2 separate regions of the Homo sapiens genome follow, and region 2 is linked to region 1. Evidence: fine-mapped expression QTL. Tissue or cell type: blood mononuclear cells. Region 1 holds a variant in brackets; the other region holds the start of a gene. All regions are shown on one strand. Distances are from middle to middle.

What was found. PIP is the estimated chance that this variant, and not a neighbour inherited with it, causes the effect.
Region 2: COL15A1 starts here. The variant in region 1 is fine-mapped to the expression of COL15A1 in blood mononuclear cells (TOPMed, PIP above 0.99).

The regions. Positions count from the first base shown.
Region 1 is chr9:99,055,481-99,063,585 of GRCh38, forward strand. It overlaps COL15A1 (collagen type XV alpha 1 chain), which reads left to right. Exons shown (of 42, transcript NM_001855.5): 35 at 780-924; 36 at 4,409-4,473; 37 at 6,491-6,619; 38 at 6,765-6,824; 39 at 7,570-7,629. Among named protein-coding and RNA genes, the nearest start is that of TGFBR1, 46 kb to the right of the region's middle. The variant C/T (reference allele first, on the strand shown) is at 4,458.
Region 2 is chr9:98,940,601-98,948,705 of GRCh38, forward strand. It overlaps COL15A1 (collagen type XV alpha 1 chain), which reads left to right and starts at 3,307. Exons shown (of 42, transcript NM_001855.5): 1 at 3,307-3,472; 2 at 3,562-3,650. The coding sequence starts at 3,462. It overlaps COL15A1-AS1 (COL15A1 antisense RNA 1), which reads right to left and starts at 4,052. Exons shown (of 1, transcript NR_198999.1): 1 at 285-4,052.

The DNA of each region.
Region 1 (8,105 bases):
CAGAGCTTGGGGATTAGCCAGCTCTTTCCCCATCCTTGTTGATTGATGGGCAGGTTGGCTGAGGTCCCTGGAGAGAAGGTAGCTGGTCAAGGCCACATGAAGGTAGGTAACTTCCAGGCCATTAGTCACACTGCCTTATTCATGACATTGGTGGAAAATTCACTCCACACAAAGAATGATTAATGGTGAATGCATCAGATAACAGAAGCAGAATGGAAGGTAAGGAGATATTTTTAGAGGAGCTGTTTGATTCTTCTGAAATTTTATCAAAGGAGCTCCTAGATAGGTGTGGTTTTCCTAGGATGAGAGATTTTTCCAGGTGAAAGGAGAGAAAGTCAAGCTGTGCCCCCAACAAGAATATGACTAGATCATTGACCTTTGGTCCCAGAGCTCACTGTGAGGGTAGAACCAGCAAAGCCAGAGATCAGAGTTCTGCCTCTAGCTCTGCATCTAATTTGCTTCATGATCTTGGGCAAGTCCTTTCACTTCTCTGGGCTTCAGTGTCTCCATCTGTGAAATGCAAAGGCTAGACTAGATGATCTCCAAGGTCCCTTCTGCCTCCAGGAGTCTCTGGGGTTCTCTGTAGAATCATTCAACATAATGACTGGGCTGCCATCTTGGAGGCCTTACCCCACCTTGAATTGTGCCCAAGATTGAGGATAGTAATAACAATAGCTGGTGTTTATTGATTTCTTTTAAATATTCTCATAAAAGGACTAGATGGGACTTCGAGTGATGAATGATGCTTTCTCTCTGTTATTGTGTGCTTGCCTTGACAGGGCCAAAAAGGGGAGACAGTCGTTGGGCCCCAAGGACCCCCAGGTGCTCCTGGTCTGCCTGGGCCACCTGGCTTTGGAAGACCTGGTGATCCTGGGCCACCGGGGCCCCCGGGGCCACCAGGACCTCCAGCTATCCTGGGAGCAGGTTAGTGCCGTAAACAGTGCCCTTGTTCATGCTGTCCCTACCATTGTGTTCAAGGTCACAGCATCTGGGTGGCTTGTCACAGCTGCACTGCCTAACAGAGGGCTTTCCTGGATACCGCCTTCTTTCTTTTTTTTTTAATTGAGATACAATTTGCACATCATAAAATTCACCCACCTAAAGTGTCTAATCCAGTAGTTTTTAATATATTCATGAAGTTATGCAGTCATCACCACTGTCTAATTCTAGACCATTTTCATCACACCAAAAAGAAATTTCATACCAATTAGCAGTTGTTCTCTTTTCTCTCTTTCCCTCTCCTCCACCAGATCTGGGCAACCATGAATCTACTTCTGTCTCCAGATTTGCCTATTCTGGACATTTCATATAAATGGAATCATATAATATATGGCCCTTTGAGTCTGGCTTCTTTCACTTAACACAGTGTTTTCAAGGTTCACCCATGTTGCAGCACGGAGTTCATTCCTTACTGTGGCCAAATAATATTGCATTGTATAGGATATACATTTTGTTTATTCATTAATCTGTTCATGGACATTTGGGTTGTTTCTACTTTTTGGCTATTATGAATAATGCTACTATGAACTTTCGTGTACAAGTTTTTATGTGAACATGTTTTCCGTTCTCTTCAGTATATACGTAGGAGAAATTGCTGGGTCATATGGTAACTCTATGTTTAACTTTTTGAGGAACTGCCAGACTGTTTTCCGAAGGAGTCACAACATTTCTCATTCCCATCAGCAGTGGCAGTGTATGAGGGGGTTCCAATTTCTCCTCCCATATTATGGTATCCTCATTGTATCTTTTTGATTATAGCCATCCTACTTGGTATGAAGTGATATCTCACTGTGGTTTTGGTTTGCATTTCCCTAATGACTAATGATGTTGAGCATCTTTTCACATGTGAGTGGAAACTTCCTGGCTGCTTTGTCAATGCCTTAGGGGCGTGAGAACCTGTCTTAATGACCAGCAGTGACTGGAACTCTGTATATAAAAATCTATTCATCCTTTAGAGCCTCACCTCCTCATATGCAAAACTGGCAAAATTAAAGAAAATCTCTATGTAATGAGCATGTATCAGATGCCAGGCATTTTGCTAATCACTTTGCTATGGTATTTTATTGAAACCTCACAACAACACTTTAAAAAAAGCATTAACATCCCCATTGTACAGGTAAGGAAAGTGAGGCCCAGAGACATTTAGGAACCTTTCCAAGGTCACACAGCTAATAAGTGACACCAACAGGATTCAGACCCAGAGCAGTGTAGCTCCAAAGCCTGTGTTATTTCTACTATGTCCATTGGAGGAGACAATAATAGCAGCAATAATAGCATGAAGGCATACTTTTTTGTTGTTTGGCTTGGCAGGAGCCAGGTATGGTGGAAGCATACCTGGAAAGAGACCTACAGAGTCCTTGGCATAAGGAGAGCTTTACACAGGAGGTGACTTTGGGGCTGGGGCTTTGACTTAGCCTTGGATCTTTTGGCTGCAAGTGATAGAAACGTAACTCAAAGTAGCTCAAGCAAAGGGGAAATGTACTGGGTGTGAAGGAGGGAGTGAACAGTCAACTTGTGGGAGAGGTAGATAAACAGCTGGACCTCAGGAACAGCCAGAGCCAGGGACTCAACCCCTGCAAGGATTCTCTGGCCATCTCTTGTCTCGGCTTCTCTCTGCATGCAGTTTCACGCTTCCTCACCACAAACCACATCCTCTGCACAGCGGGAAATATGGTTACTGACAACTTACAGCTTCCACTGTCAGCTAGAAATCTTGAACTTCTTTTACTATTTTAGTTTGAAAAGTCCTGGGATGGGGAAGTCCTAGAGAAGGGTCCTGATGGGCCTGACTTGGGTGAGGTACCCAATCTTGGACAAATCACCTATGACCAGGAGGTCGGATCACATGAGAACATGGTAGCTCTTTCTGGAACCAAATGGTTGTAGAGGTGAAGGGAAGGTCCCAAGAGAAGGAGATGAGGACACTGGTCCTACAAAGGAAGAAGGTGCCGAGTGTATGGAACCACAGGTGCCCACACAGCCATGAGGGAGGAGTAGGACTACAGGAGGTGGAGGCATATTACAGGGTGAGTGCAAGGTGGAGAAAAACTGTTGTCCACAGCAACACTACATTAGGGCTGCCGGGATGCCTTGCTGCATTGAGCAAGGATTGCTTCTCACATAATGTATAGCAATTCAGTTTACAAAACACTTTCATGGCCATTATCCCATGTAGTCTTCACAGCAACCCTGGGAGGAAGATAAAACAGATATTATTATAAAATTCATCTCACGGATGAAGACACTGAAGCTCACAGAGGTGAAGAGACTTACTTGAGGTCACAAATTCTATTAGGAGGCATGGCTGGGATCCAAATCCGAGTCCACTGGCCCTCTATCCACTAGACATTTGCCACCTGTGTGTGGGTGTTCAAGTCCTATGTTGGAACTGAACATTTGCTTGCAACGACCTGAAGGACTGTATAATTTTACTGGGGCTTGTAAAAACACCCTTAATTCTGCCAAGAGCTTGGCAGATTTGGAGGAGTTGTCGGGGGTAGGGTGAGCAGAGGATGAGAGAGGTAGAAGAACAGCCAAAGGAATAGTTGTAATTATACTACTTTATGTTTGCCTAAAGTAAGGGCTTTTCAGTTGAGGAATCATAGACTCCTAGAGAGTTCAAGGATATACCTCCAGGATTTGTCATCCCAGTAATATTTTTTTATAGAATTATGTGTGCATTTCTCTGGGAAAGAGGGCACTAACCTTGATCTGATTTTTAAGGGCACTGTGACTCTTCAAAAGCTAAGAGCTCCTGGCCGGATGAATGCTGTACATGTACAATTTTCAAAGCACTCAGTTCTCACCGCAGCCCAGGGAAGAAGAAATGCCTATTTTACATTTTGCAGATGAGGAAACAGCTTTGGAGAGCTTGCTGTTTCCTCGAGATCACACAGCTAGGAATGGACAAACTTAAGGACTTGAGTCCATGTCTCTGGCCCCAAGGCCAGGGCTACTGTCACTGCACCACCCTGGTCTCCTCCCACTCCCTAGAGCCTTCTCTTCCTCTTTCTGAGCCTGCTTCCTCTGTTCAGTGTCACATGCTTGTCTCTTGGGTGAAATAAGTTATATGAGTCAGGACATTTTTGAATGCAAGTGACAAAATATTCAACTTAAGCTGGCTTTTATAAAACAACCACAAAAGGAATTGATTCACTTATGAAACGGAAAAGCACTAGCCATGGCTTCATCCAGGGTAACAATCAAGAATCCCAGCTCTTCCCTGAACCAGTCAATGTGGCCTAAGTCACACGCTGGGGGCACAGCACCCAAGATACAGGTGGAAGTTGGGATGCTTTGTGGCGCTGTGAATGGGGTTGAACACACTTCTCTCCGGGAGTCAGCTGATACCTCAGACATTTTTCAGAGTGTGGTTTTTGTGTAACTTCTCTTTTCTGTTTTGTCTTAGCTGTGGCCCTTCCAGGTCCCCCTGGCCCTCCAGGACAGCCAGGGCTTCC[C/T]GGATCCAGAAACCTGGTCAGTATTATCATCAGTGTGTAGTCATCATTCCATTTGGGATAGATATACTTAAAACTCTGCCTACGATCTCCTGTGTCTGACATCCCTTGGGGATCAGGCCTTCATGATAGTAGGCTTGGTGCAATTCCATAAATAGTAGAAGGGATTTGTTATCTATTTGGATGACTTATTAAGTAAAAAGACGTGAAAAAACAAAATCATGTATATGTAAGTTCCACCATTCGAATCCTTAATTGACTAAGTTATAACAAGAACCAATCATATTACTTATATATTTTTATATATATATATATATATATATTTTTTTTTTGCTGGATGAGGGGTGGACGGGGTCTCACTCTGTCACCCAAACTGGAGTACAGTGGTGAGATCACGGCTCACTGCAGCCTCAACCTCCCTGAGCTCAGGTAATCCTCTCATCTCAGCCTCCAGAGTAGCTGGGACTACAGATGCACACTACCACACCTGGCTAATTTTTTTTTTTTTTTTTTTGTAGAGACAGGGTTTTTGTTACATTGCCCAGGCTGGCCTTGAACTCATGGGCCACCAAGGTGATTCTCCCACCTTGGCCTCCCAAAGTGCTGGGAGTACAGACACGAGCCACCACGCCTGGCCACCAATAATAGTATTTCAAAAAGCATAAACCTGCTCGGGTGCGGTGGCTCACTCCTGTAATCCCAGCACTTTGAGAGGCTGAAGCAGGAGAATCACTTGAGTCTAGGAGTTCAAGACTAGCCTGGGCAACATAGTGAGATCCTGCCTCTACAGAAAAATGTAAAAATTAACTGGGTGTGGTGGTGCATATCTGTAGTCCCAGCTACTTGAGAAGCTAAGGATCACTTGAGCCTGGGAAGTCGAGGCTCCAGTGAACCATGACTGTGCCACTGCACTCCAGCCTGGGTGAAAAAGCAATACCCCATCTCTAGAAAAAAAAGAAAAAACAAAACAACAAAAGCCCAAGAGCATAAACAATGTTACAACAGGTCCTTGTGCTGGTCAGATTTACTTGGATAATTCAGTCTTCTCCATTCTGCCAAAGAACATCTCTGGCACATTCGTTACCCTGCAGTTCGTTGGAACAAGACATAGCACTCCAAGATTACTGTAATGCACAGAAAAATGGACAAATACTTCACAAGGATGTCAGGAGTCCAAAAATGCTCTTTGATCTTTGCTGGATGTTAGTTGCAAAATTTGGCTGCCAAAAGAAAGAACTGTCCTACATATGATGGAATTCTGATATTTGGTTCCCTTGGGGATATCTAAGTCATTTTGATGCACAAAGCCATTATCTTCAAGGCTAGGTGAAAATTAATATTTTATAATCTTTCTCAGTTACAATGAAAAATAAAAACTCTCTTGGCCGTTATTTCTTTGAGATTTGATGCTATTCAATAGATTTTTGTAGCTTCTGTATGTGCTTCTAGATATGCCAAATGGCTGTCTAATCTTTGGCACTTTTCTAGGCAGAGAAATTACAGACCTCCATTTTCTATCATGCATTTAATGTAACTACCAAGCTAGACAAAAAAGATTTAAGACCTTAAGTATAGTTGCTCACTTGCTTGCCTTTCTTATTCCAAATGAAAAATTTGAAACTCTTCAAGGACCAGCATGAAGTAACACCATTTAACCATGTTAGTGCCACCAAGTAGCTTAAAAAAATAGAAGTGGTAAAACTTACCAGTGCTTTTGCTAATACCCAAACCAAAACAAAGATAACTCCATTGACAATTTGTAAATGTCTTTATACTCACATAATATTGTCATTTTTGTTTTAATTCATTTATTATAAGTTAGATTTGTGTTTCAAAGTATACATGTTTTTGTTTTATCAAGAAGAATGCCCTTTAGTTACTAATGAAGGTATATACCTCTATCTGGCACATTAACAAGCCTCTTTATTGAGTATCTGGGGACGGCTCCTAGTTGACTTTACAGAGAGGCCAGGTTATCAGATGGTGCCATTCCTCTAATGATAATGGCAGTGTTTGGAATTTAAATGATCTGACAGGTCACAGCATTCAGCAACATGGATGACATGCTGCAGAAAGCGCATTTGGTTATAGAAGGAACATTCATCTACCTGAGGGACAGCACTGAGTTTTTCATTCGTGTTAGAGATGGCTGGAAAAAATTACAGGTAATTTCTAAACTTCCTTTAACACACTGCCTTCAAATACCCTCTAAAAATAATAATCTACTCCCATAAATGCCATTTTTTTCTGTTTTGAAATGGGAGAAGTTTGTAATTGATCTTTCATTTCAATGTACTGTTTTTCTTAAAGCTGGGAGAACTGATCCCCATTCCTGCCGACAGCCCTCCACCCCCTGCGCTTTCCAGCAACGTGAGTAGTTACCCTGTTGGACTGCTCATGCATTCATTTATCAGCATTTCCTGAGTCCTCCTTGGTATCTAGCACCAAGCTCTCCAAACTCTGGACAGTCAGCTGTGCACGGTTTAGTATCTGGTGAAATCCTAGAAATTAATGGGTGCTAACAGGAGGTTCCCACAGTAGAGCGGAGGAATAACTAGATCCAGAGGCTGGAGACCTGCTGTTCCCATGTAGTAGCCAAATCTTCTTGGGCAGAGGGCTTCCTCTATCTTGGCCTCAGTTTGTTCATCTGTGGAATCATTGGTTGGTATAAGCAATCTAGAAGATTCCTTTAATTTTTGGCACCATCTGCCTCATAAGAACATGGGCAACTGGCATTGTCCATCTTCTAGCCCTAGAGCAATGCTTTGAGGTGGGTACTATCATCCCCGTTTTGCAGATTATGAAACTGAGGCTCTGAAGAGGTAGCTTTCTCTATTAAGTGAAAGAGTTGGTGATTAAACATGGGTTTATCAAAAAGAATGCCCTTCCTTGATTCAGTGCTCTTTTTAAAACTCTTGAGAACATTTTCTCCCTTTCTGAAGATGATTTCTTCAGCAGGTCATGAAACTCTTTACAGTTAAGAGTCACAGTTACAGACAATGGCAAATTATTTAAAGCATCTTCTCAAGAAACATTGCACTTGCACCTCAATACACTCTGAAGAACAGATTGAATGCATATTCAGAACTGTTTCTTTTCCTCCTTTTCATAACAGCCACATCAGCTTCTGCCTCCACCAAACCCTATTTCAAGTGCCAATTATGAGAAGCCTGCTGTAAGTACAATTTATACATTTAATCTTCAAATACTGAGTGTATATCTGCTAAGTGCTAGGTCTCATGCTTAGTACACAGTTCCTACCATCATGATACTTATAGACTAGTGAGAGAGGCAAACAAAAAACAGAGAATTACAATACAGTGTGGTAAGTTGTTTGGGTGAACCAAGCACAGGGTGCTGGGGGTATAAGGGAGGGCAGAGACGTCTACCTGGAGGAGGTTACCTCCAAACTAAGACCCAAAGGACAGCTGAGTTCGGGAGTGAGCCAGGTGGGAGAGAGGCAAAGGGAAGATGGAATAGAGGGAGGTAAGGGGAAGGGCTGTGCATTCCTGTAATTGCTAGTATTAAATTACAGGCAAAAGAGTAGAGTTCAAGGCAGAAAAGGGAGACATTTAGTCTGTGGAAGTCAGCAAAGCAAGTGCTAGGTTTCAAGGGTCTGCAAGCCAAGCCAAAAAGTTTGACCATTTTCTG
Region 2 (8,105 bases), 110 kb before region 1:
TGGCTTCCCAGGAGAAATAGGTGCAAAATCAACAACCTTAACACGAGTCTATTTCCAGTCATTTGTAGATGAGAAGTGTGCTTTGGGAAACTTCATTTTTAGATTCCAGTGAATTGGGTATCATCAGTTACAGAGAACCAACAAAATATGAAATGTGCACATAGGACTTCCCTGCAAGAGTAGAAAGGAATCTGTTGCCTTATGCATATGTATCTTGGACTGATAAATTGGATCACAATCAAGTCTTCACCCTTCATGTTATATATGTAACTGAGGAGGCCAGGTTTGTTTCATAATGGCACCTTCATTTTTATTTTTTTCAATGTACACACTTTATTTGTATATTAAACAAGTAGAAATATGTTTTTCCCCATCTTTCTTTAAACATGTTCTTCTCCCCATATATCTTCTGTTTACCCATTTTTAACAGGAACATGAGCATTCAACCTATTCCATTTTTTCTTATATGCAAAGGCAGAGTGCAACTGTGATAGGGGCAATTGATTCTTAGCTTTGGTTTTGGGGACAATATGGGGTGGTGGGAACTACGGCAAACTGGACAGTACTGCCTTAGCTGAAGGCAGCAGCCCCTATTCAATGCCAATCAATTGTTGGCACAGAGAATGCAGGCCTTATGTCGCCAGGTTTTCCAAAATTTCAAAAAGAATCCAGAAGTCTCAATTTTACTGTGCAATTCTCTAATTATCAAATATTGCTAGCCAATTTAATTTGGAGGTTGACACCCAGCAGACCAGATAAAACATATCTATGGGCAAAATTGAAGGCTGGGCATGGTGGCTTATGCCTTTAATCCCAGCACTTTAGAAGGCTGAGATGGGTGGATCAACTTGAGGTCAGGAGTTTGAGACCAGCCTGGCCAACATGGTGAAACCCCGTCTCTACTAAAAATACAAAAATTAGCCGAGTGTGGTGATGGGCGCCTATAGTCCCAGCTACTTGGAAGGCTGAAGAGGAGAATCACTTGAACCCGGGAGGCGGAAGTTGCAGTGAGCCACCATTGCACTCCATCCTGGGTGACAGAGCGGCACTCCATCCTGGGTGACAGAGCGACACTCCATCTCAAACAAAAACAAAAACCAAAATCAAAAATGAAACAAAATTGAGCCTATGGCTGCCAGTTCACAATCTCTGGTTTTAAAACTGTCAAACAGAACCCTAGATCTACTATGTAGCCATAACTGATGTGGTTTTTCTAAGCAGTATAGAAATATAGTTCTAAGAAAGTCAATTATATTCCTAGTTAATGTGGTACTTTACAAACAATAGAGAAATATAGAATTATGAAAGCAAATTCCCTATGGTTAGTGAATCAAAATAAAATAAGGTTAGGCCCATCACAGAGTGGCTGCAAGTGGGAGAGAATTTACATTCACAGGGAATGTGAACAGATTAGGAAAGAGGCCTCAAGTGGACAATTTTGTCGGGATGCAGTTCGCCTTATGTGTTAGCTCCACATGAGGCCAACCTGGTTCTCGAGCTGCTTTGGCTACTGGAGCCTCAATCCCTTAAGAGGTTGATCTAGGGTCCCCCCTCTGTCTTGCCAGTTGTCCCCCTCCACAGGCCGCAGCCCCGATGAGAATATCCACAACCTCTAATAATAGAAGCCAAAATCCAATGGACAGAGAGCACTGTGGTGTACCAGTAGGTGGTCCCATCAAGGGACTCACAGCCACCATTCAATTCAAGGTAGTTGTGTCCATTATCCAGGTGGAGAAATAAAAAATCAGACCAAGGGCAAGATTTGCCCAACTTCACCCTGCAGCCAGGGCCAGCATTGGACTGGAACCCAGACTCCTGATCTCCAGGCCAACCATCCCTCCTCTGAGCCCTCACCGCCCAGGCTGGCATGAACCCTTTCATATCCGAGTGCTCTGTGTCTCCACTGCGATTTTGCTCTTGAGGGTGGAGAGTGAGTCTAATCTTCTTGCTTACTGGCAGGCAGCATGGCTGAGTGGGGAGGAGCATGGGTGTTGCATCTGCCATTCATTAGCCTTGGAATGTTTTGAACCTCAGCTTTCTTATCTATGAAATGGGGATCATGACAGTATCACCTTTCCATGGCTGTTGTGGGTATTAAATGAGATAACACAGCTAAAGCATTTAGCAGAGGGCTTGGGACATAATCCACACCAAGTAAGCATTAGTTGCTTATATCCATTCCCATGCCATCTCCTCTGCAAGGCTAACTCACTTGGCAAGAGGTGACCCATCCTCTAGAGTGGAACTGAATCAAACACAGGAACTGACCACAGAGCCACGGCCCACTGTGGCTACTTGGTGCTTCAGGAAGAGAGGTTTCTAGTGTTTACCTGGCTTCAGAGCTGTCCAGGTCTCAGCCAACTTCAGCGGTGCCTCTTCTCACTCCAAGATCTCACACTATGTGCCGGGTGGTAATCTTAATAAAAAGCGACCATTGAGGGTTTACCCAGTGCCCTGCGATAAGCTCTGCACAGATGGGTTAGTCTGCCCTGAACCGCCTCACTCCCACTGAGGGCTTTCGGAGGCAGAGCCTGGTTCATGACCCCCACATCTCATCACAGGGCCTGGTGTGATGCCTCACCCAAGACTGTGCTCCTTCATTCATCCAGCGTTTATTGGCATCTCCTACTACCTGAGCTGTTTTAGGCAGGGAACAAAGCACAGATAAGCCCTCCTGGAGCTTACATTCTGATGAAGGGGGCAGGCAAGGTATACATAGGGAGGAAAGCCCTGGAATCCAGTACATTAAAAACTTTTATTAGGATTATCTCTGCTGCATTTAGTTGTATGTATCCCTTATGGCCCCCAGGCAGGTCCACTCCTGGGCATTCAAGTCGGTCCATGTGTCAGGCGTGCAGGGTGGGTCACAGCATCTAGGAGCTCAGTGCAGCTTGGGACTTTGGGACATACGCTCCACCTCTCTGAGCCTCAGTCTCCTTGTCCATCATATAAGGAAATCACTGATTCCAGCCTTCCTGGGCTGTGGAGAGGATTCCCTCAGCGGCTGTGAAAGAGTGCTTTCTTGCGGGTCAGCCCCGACAGGACAGACTTAAGGGCGGGAGGGAGCCCATCCCGCTTGCCCCAACGAACGCGGGCGCGGGGCTTTCCTCGCAGGTTACATAAGGCAGCCGCGGGTGGAGGCAGCAGAGGCGAGCGCACGTCCGTCGAGGGGGAAAGGGGCGTGGGGAGGCGGCCGGGGCGGCCGGTATCCCCCGGGCGTGAGTGCGCAGCGCGCGGGGGAGCGCAGGGCGCGGCGGAGTCGGGTTTCAGAGCGCGGGTGACTCGGGGCGCGGGCCGGGAGCCGGGATTCTGCCCGCCGCCGCCGCTGCCGAGCGCCGCCTTTGTTCCCTGCAGGAAGGGCGAGCGCGGCGGCCAGCGCTCAGCGACCCTTCGTCCTCCGCTAAGCTCCAACGCTCTGCTCGACTAGCCGCGCGCCTTCCGGGGCTCCGCAGACCCGCGAGATGGCACCAAGGTAAGACCCGCTTCTCTGCTTCCTCGCGTCCCGGGCCCCTCCAATACTCTTGCCCGCCTCACCTTTTCTCCCTCGGGCACATCTTGCAGGAGGAACAACGGGCAGTGCTGGTGTCTGCTGATGCTGCTCTCGGTCTCCACGCCCCTCCCTGCTGTCACCCAGACCCGCGGTGCGACAGGTAAGCAACCCGGTCGGAGGGTGGCACCGGCTGCCTCCGCGCCCGTGGGGGAAGTCGGTTTTGGCGGCGGACGCGGCTGCGATGCGTGCCTCATTCCTGGACATAAAAGGGAGTCTTGCCACTCAGTGCGCACTGGCGGTCCCGCGGGCGGCTACCTCCTGGCAGTGCAGGGGTTATAGCTGTGAATGGGATCCCTGGGCAGCTGGGGCGGTTGGAGCGTTGTCTGGGCACCCGAGATGTCTGAGCTGGGTGCGGAGCCTCCAATCTTAGGCAGAGAGGGACTTCAGAAACAGCGCCAGCGCCAGCGCCAACAGCCTCAGCGCACCCAGCGCCAGCAGCTTAGGTTGTGCGTGCTGGCTGGCTTCTGGTAAGGGCAGGTCTGGTGCCTCTCCGCACACAGGTGCGAAGCATGAACACCGGGAGGGACATCTGGGGCTTTTGCTGCTCAAGAAATAACGGAACTGAATTGCTCGGTTGCTTAACCCAGCTCTGAGTTACCTAAGCGGTCACGTCTATCATGGGCAGTGGCTCCACCGGTGGTGGAAAGAGCTGTGGCCTGGAAGCCAGAGATCTGATCCCTTCCGTTCCCCGGGCCTCAGTTTCTCCAGCAGAACTCAGGCGGTTGGCTGAATAGTAAGATATAAGTTAAAGTAGACCTAAGTTAAAATGGGCCTCGGTTAAGGTCAGACTGCCTGGGTTTGAACTGTGGCTGGCTGAGTGATCTTGGGCAATGGATTTCATCGCTCTGTGCCTCAGTTTCCCCATCTGAAAAAGGCGATTAATTAGACCATTTTACCTTCCTAGAAATGTTGTGAATATTAGAGAAATTAGAAATAATGTGCTTCCCATGATTCCAGTATATACTAGGCACAAAATAAGTGATAGAAATTACTGCTTGATTCTTGCAGTAACTATGTGTTGGAAAGCAATGCAAGTATTTTTATTTTTATTTTAGATTCAGGGAGTGGTCATGTGTGGTTTTTTACAAGGGTATATTGCACGGTGCTGAGGTTTGGGCTTCTATTAATCCCATCGCAATGCAGGTATTTTTATAACATTGAGGTTGAGAGAAGCTTAGAAAGTGGCCAGTCCAAAAGCCAGGACTTGAATCCAGGTCTGTAGGCTCTTGCCCTTGCTCAGCTCTTTCTCCATGCAGTTTTGCAGAAGAGCCATGCTTTCTATAGCTTCTGACCCCCTCCCCTTTGAATTTGGGGGATTAGTACACATCTTCAATTGAATAAGGGAACAGAAAGTCTAGGAAACAACCTCTAGTCGGCCCAAAGGAAACGGGATTGAGAAGGTGGCCTTGGTTAACTCTTTGTTTGCCTGAAGAAGCCCAAGACAGCCCATTGTCTCCTGGGCAACAAGACCCAAATCCGATGATAGCTTTTCCTGCCAGAGTGTCCAGCCTGGCATTTATTGCAGATCAAAGGGCAGCTGGAGTATAGTTTTAGCTTCTCAGCCCCATGGCTCATGTCAGAAAGTTGCAATTTTGCATATGATATAGGGCCCTGCCAACTCAGTGGCAGAGGCCAACTTTGGGTTCCATGGTCTTTTGTGAACTTTGCTGCAACTTCCAGTTTCCCAAAAGGAAGATGGATCTGGGGATAGGAACTTTGGTGTTTCTTTCTCCTCCTGTGTGTGTCTCTGGGATCCCTCAGTGTCAGGGCTGTTGTTTCTAACACAAAGGAAGCCCTATTCCCATTTATAATGTAAAAAGGGAGGGCCAGCAAACCTTCAGGAGCTGAGAACGGTCTAAGGAGGGCCATTTGCAACTGATGGGTTTTCAGTGCCCCTTTGGGGATGTGAAACGATTCCTAAAAATGTAAACTATCCTCCTGCAAACTGCATTTGTAATGCAATTTAATATCCCTAATACTTATAAAACACTTTGTATATCCAGGTGGAGGTGTGAACATGTTCATATTTCATTCATCCAATCCTTACAACCACTCCAGGAGGTGAGGACTGAGAACAGTTACTATCTCTGTTTTTCAGATGAAGAAACAGAGGTCCAAAGTCACAAGACTTCTAAGTGGCTGGGGTGGGATTTGAACCAGACAGTCTGACTCCAGAGTCCTTGCTCTTAACCATCCTAGTGTGTAGTTAGAAGAGCTTCACGGATGGAGAAGGCTTTAGGGGTTCCATGGTCTCCAATGAGCCCCACAATCTGAATGTCACAATTGTAACATGAGTCCATTGCATGGCATTGTGCAGTCTTCAAAGCACAATGTCACCTTCACCACGTCCCTGGAATCACCACCCAGCAGTGCTGAGAAGTAAATTGGGCTCTGTCTTACAGAGGGGATGTGACTTCCTCAAGGCCGCATGACTGTAACTGGGTAGATCCATAATAGCCCTCTCACGTCTGTGAACTTCTGGGCTGGTGCTGTTCCTTCCATAGGACCACTGCCCAACTGGCTATAAAAAACAATTGCCAAGACTTCATAGCACTATGAACCAGCAGTGTTTTAAGTGCCCTGCCATGAATGAGCTCAGTCAATCATCACAACAACCCCATGTCTTATCCCCTTTTACAGATGAGGAAACTGAGGCACAGTCTTTTGCCCAAGGGCATGTAGCCTTCAGTAATATAAGCACAATTTGAGCCCAGAGGGTCTGACTCCAGAATCTGTACTTGTAACCACTATGCTGTATGCTTAAGTGGGGTGGCTTCTGAAAGCATGTTTGTAAGTGGGCTGTTATGAGCGGAAATACATGTTCCCAACGATTTGGCAGTTTCTTAAAATGTTAAATATATACTTACCCTACAATCTAGAACTTCCACTCCTAAGTATCTACTTAAGGGAAAGGAAAGCATATGGCCACCCAAAAACTCATATGTATGTTCATAGCAGCATTATTTATAATGACCAAAACTGGAAATAAAGTTAAATTCACCATTAGCTGGTGAATAGATAAACAAATGAGGTGTATCCATTTAATGGAATACTACTCAGCAATAAAAAGGAATGAAGTATTGATCAATGCTACAACAACATGGATAAACCTTAATACCATTAAGCTAAGTAAAAGAAGCCAGACATTAAAAAGCAATACATTGTAAGAGTCCCTATATATGAGATTTCTGTAAAGGCAGAACCACAGAGACAGAAAACAGAAGCAGAGATTGACTGCAAAGGGGCATGAGGAAACTTTTTGGGGAGTGTTCTAAAACTGGATTGTGGTGGTAGTTGTGCAACTCTATAAATTTACTAAAATAATCTAACTATACATTTAAAATGGGTGAATTTTATGGAATGTAAGCTATGCCTCAATAAAGCTGCTTCTTAAATAAAAGAATGTATTTTCCCAGAGCATCTAGGCCCCAGATCTGGTGGGGCTTCAAGGTGGGGTTCCTAGCCAGCCTGGTACAGAGCTGGCACACAGCTCACAACTTAAAAGCTGCTGGCCTCTTAGGGCATTGATTCTCTCAGAAAATGGGTCCAGAGTTCTGCCTGCACCTCCAGGTCTCTGGATCGACTCTCCCTACTATCCCTGAATGCCATTGTGGGCCCAGGACAGGGCTCCTCAGGTAGGGGTAGAACACATGCATATGGGTTTTTTGCAGGTAGTTGATCTGTTAAAAAGTGGGTCTTTGTAAACTTCCTGATATCCTGCACGCCCTAAAACAGCACAAGTTCAGGTATTGGAAAACCTGGGTTCCACTCACTGACTTCCTCCATGAACTTAGATGAGTTGCTTTTCCCACTCTGAGCCTGTTTTCCCATCTACGAAGTGGAGAGGCAAGAGTCACTCATCTCTGTAGTCCTAATTTAAAATGTTGGGAAACAAAACAAAATAATATTTTTCTAGTTTGAGGTTTGATTATTTCACATAGTTTAGTTCAACAAACCCATTCTGTGCTGGCCCTCATGCTGGCTGGGTACAGAAAGGATTTGGGCACAGAGCTGCCCCAAAGGGGTCATAGTTCACAGGAAGAAAGAAAGGGCCACAGACAACTGTAATGCCATTTTTCCTGAAGTCTTCTCATCTACCATGCAGAATGTCCTGTGTGCAGCCAATCCCATCCTTCTACACCATCCTGTTTAAAGACACACTTGTCGGCCGGGCGCGGTGGCTCACACCTGTAATCCCAGCACTTTGGGAGGCTGGGGCGGGCAGATCATTAGGTCAGGAGATTGAGACCATCCTAGCTAACACGGTGAAACCCTGTCTCTACTAAAAATACAAAAAATTAGCCAGGCATGGTGGCGGGCGCCTGTAGTCCCAGCTACTTGGGAGGCTGAGGCAGGAGAATAGCTTGAACCTGGGAGGCGGAGGTTGCAGTGAGCCAAGATCGCGCCACTGCACTCCAGCCTGGCAACAGAGGGAGACTCTGTCTCAAAAAAAAAAAAAAAAAAAAAGAGACACTTGTCAGTGGGTGTCACCCACATGGCCTCTTGTACCTCCAATGGTCAGGGTTGAGCTGGAGGACAACACCAATCCTTCCTT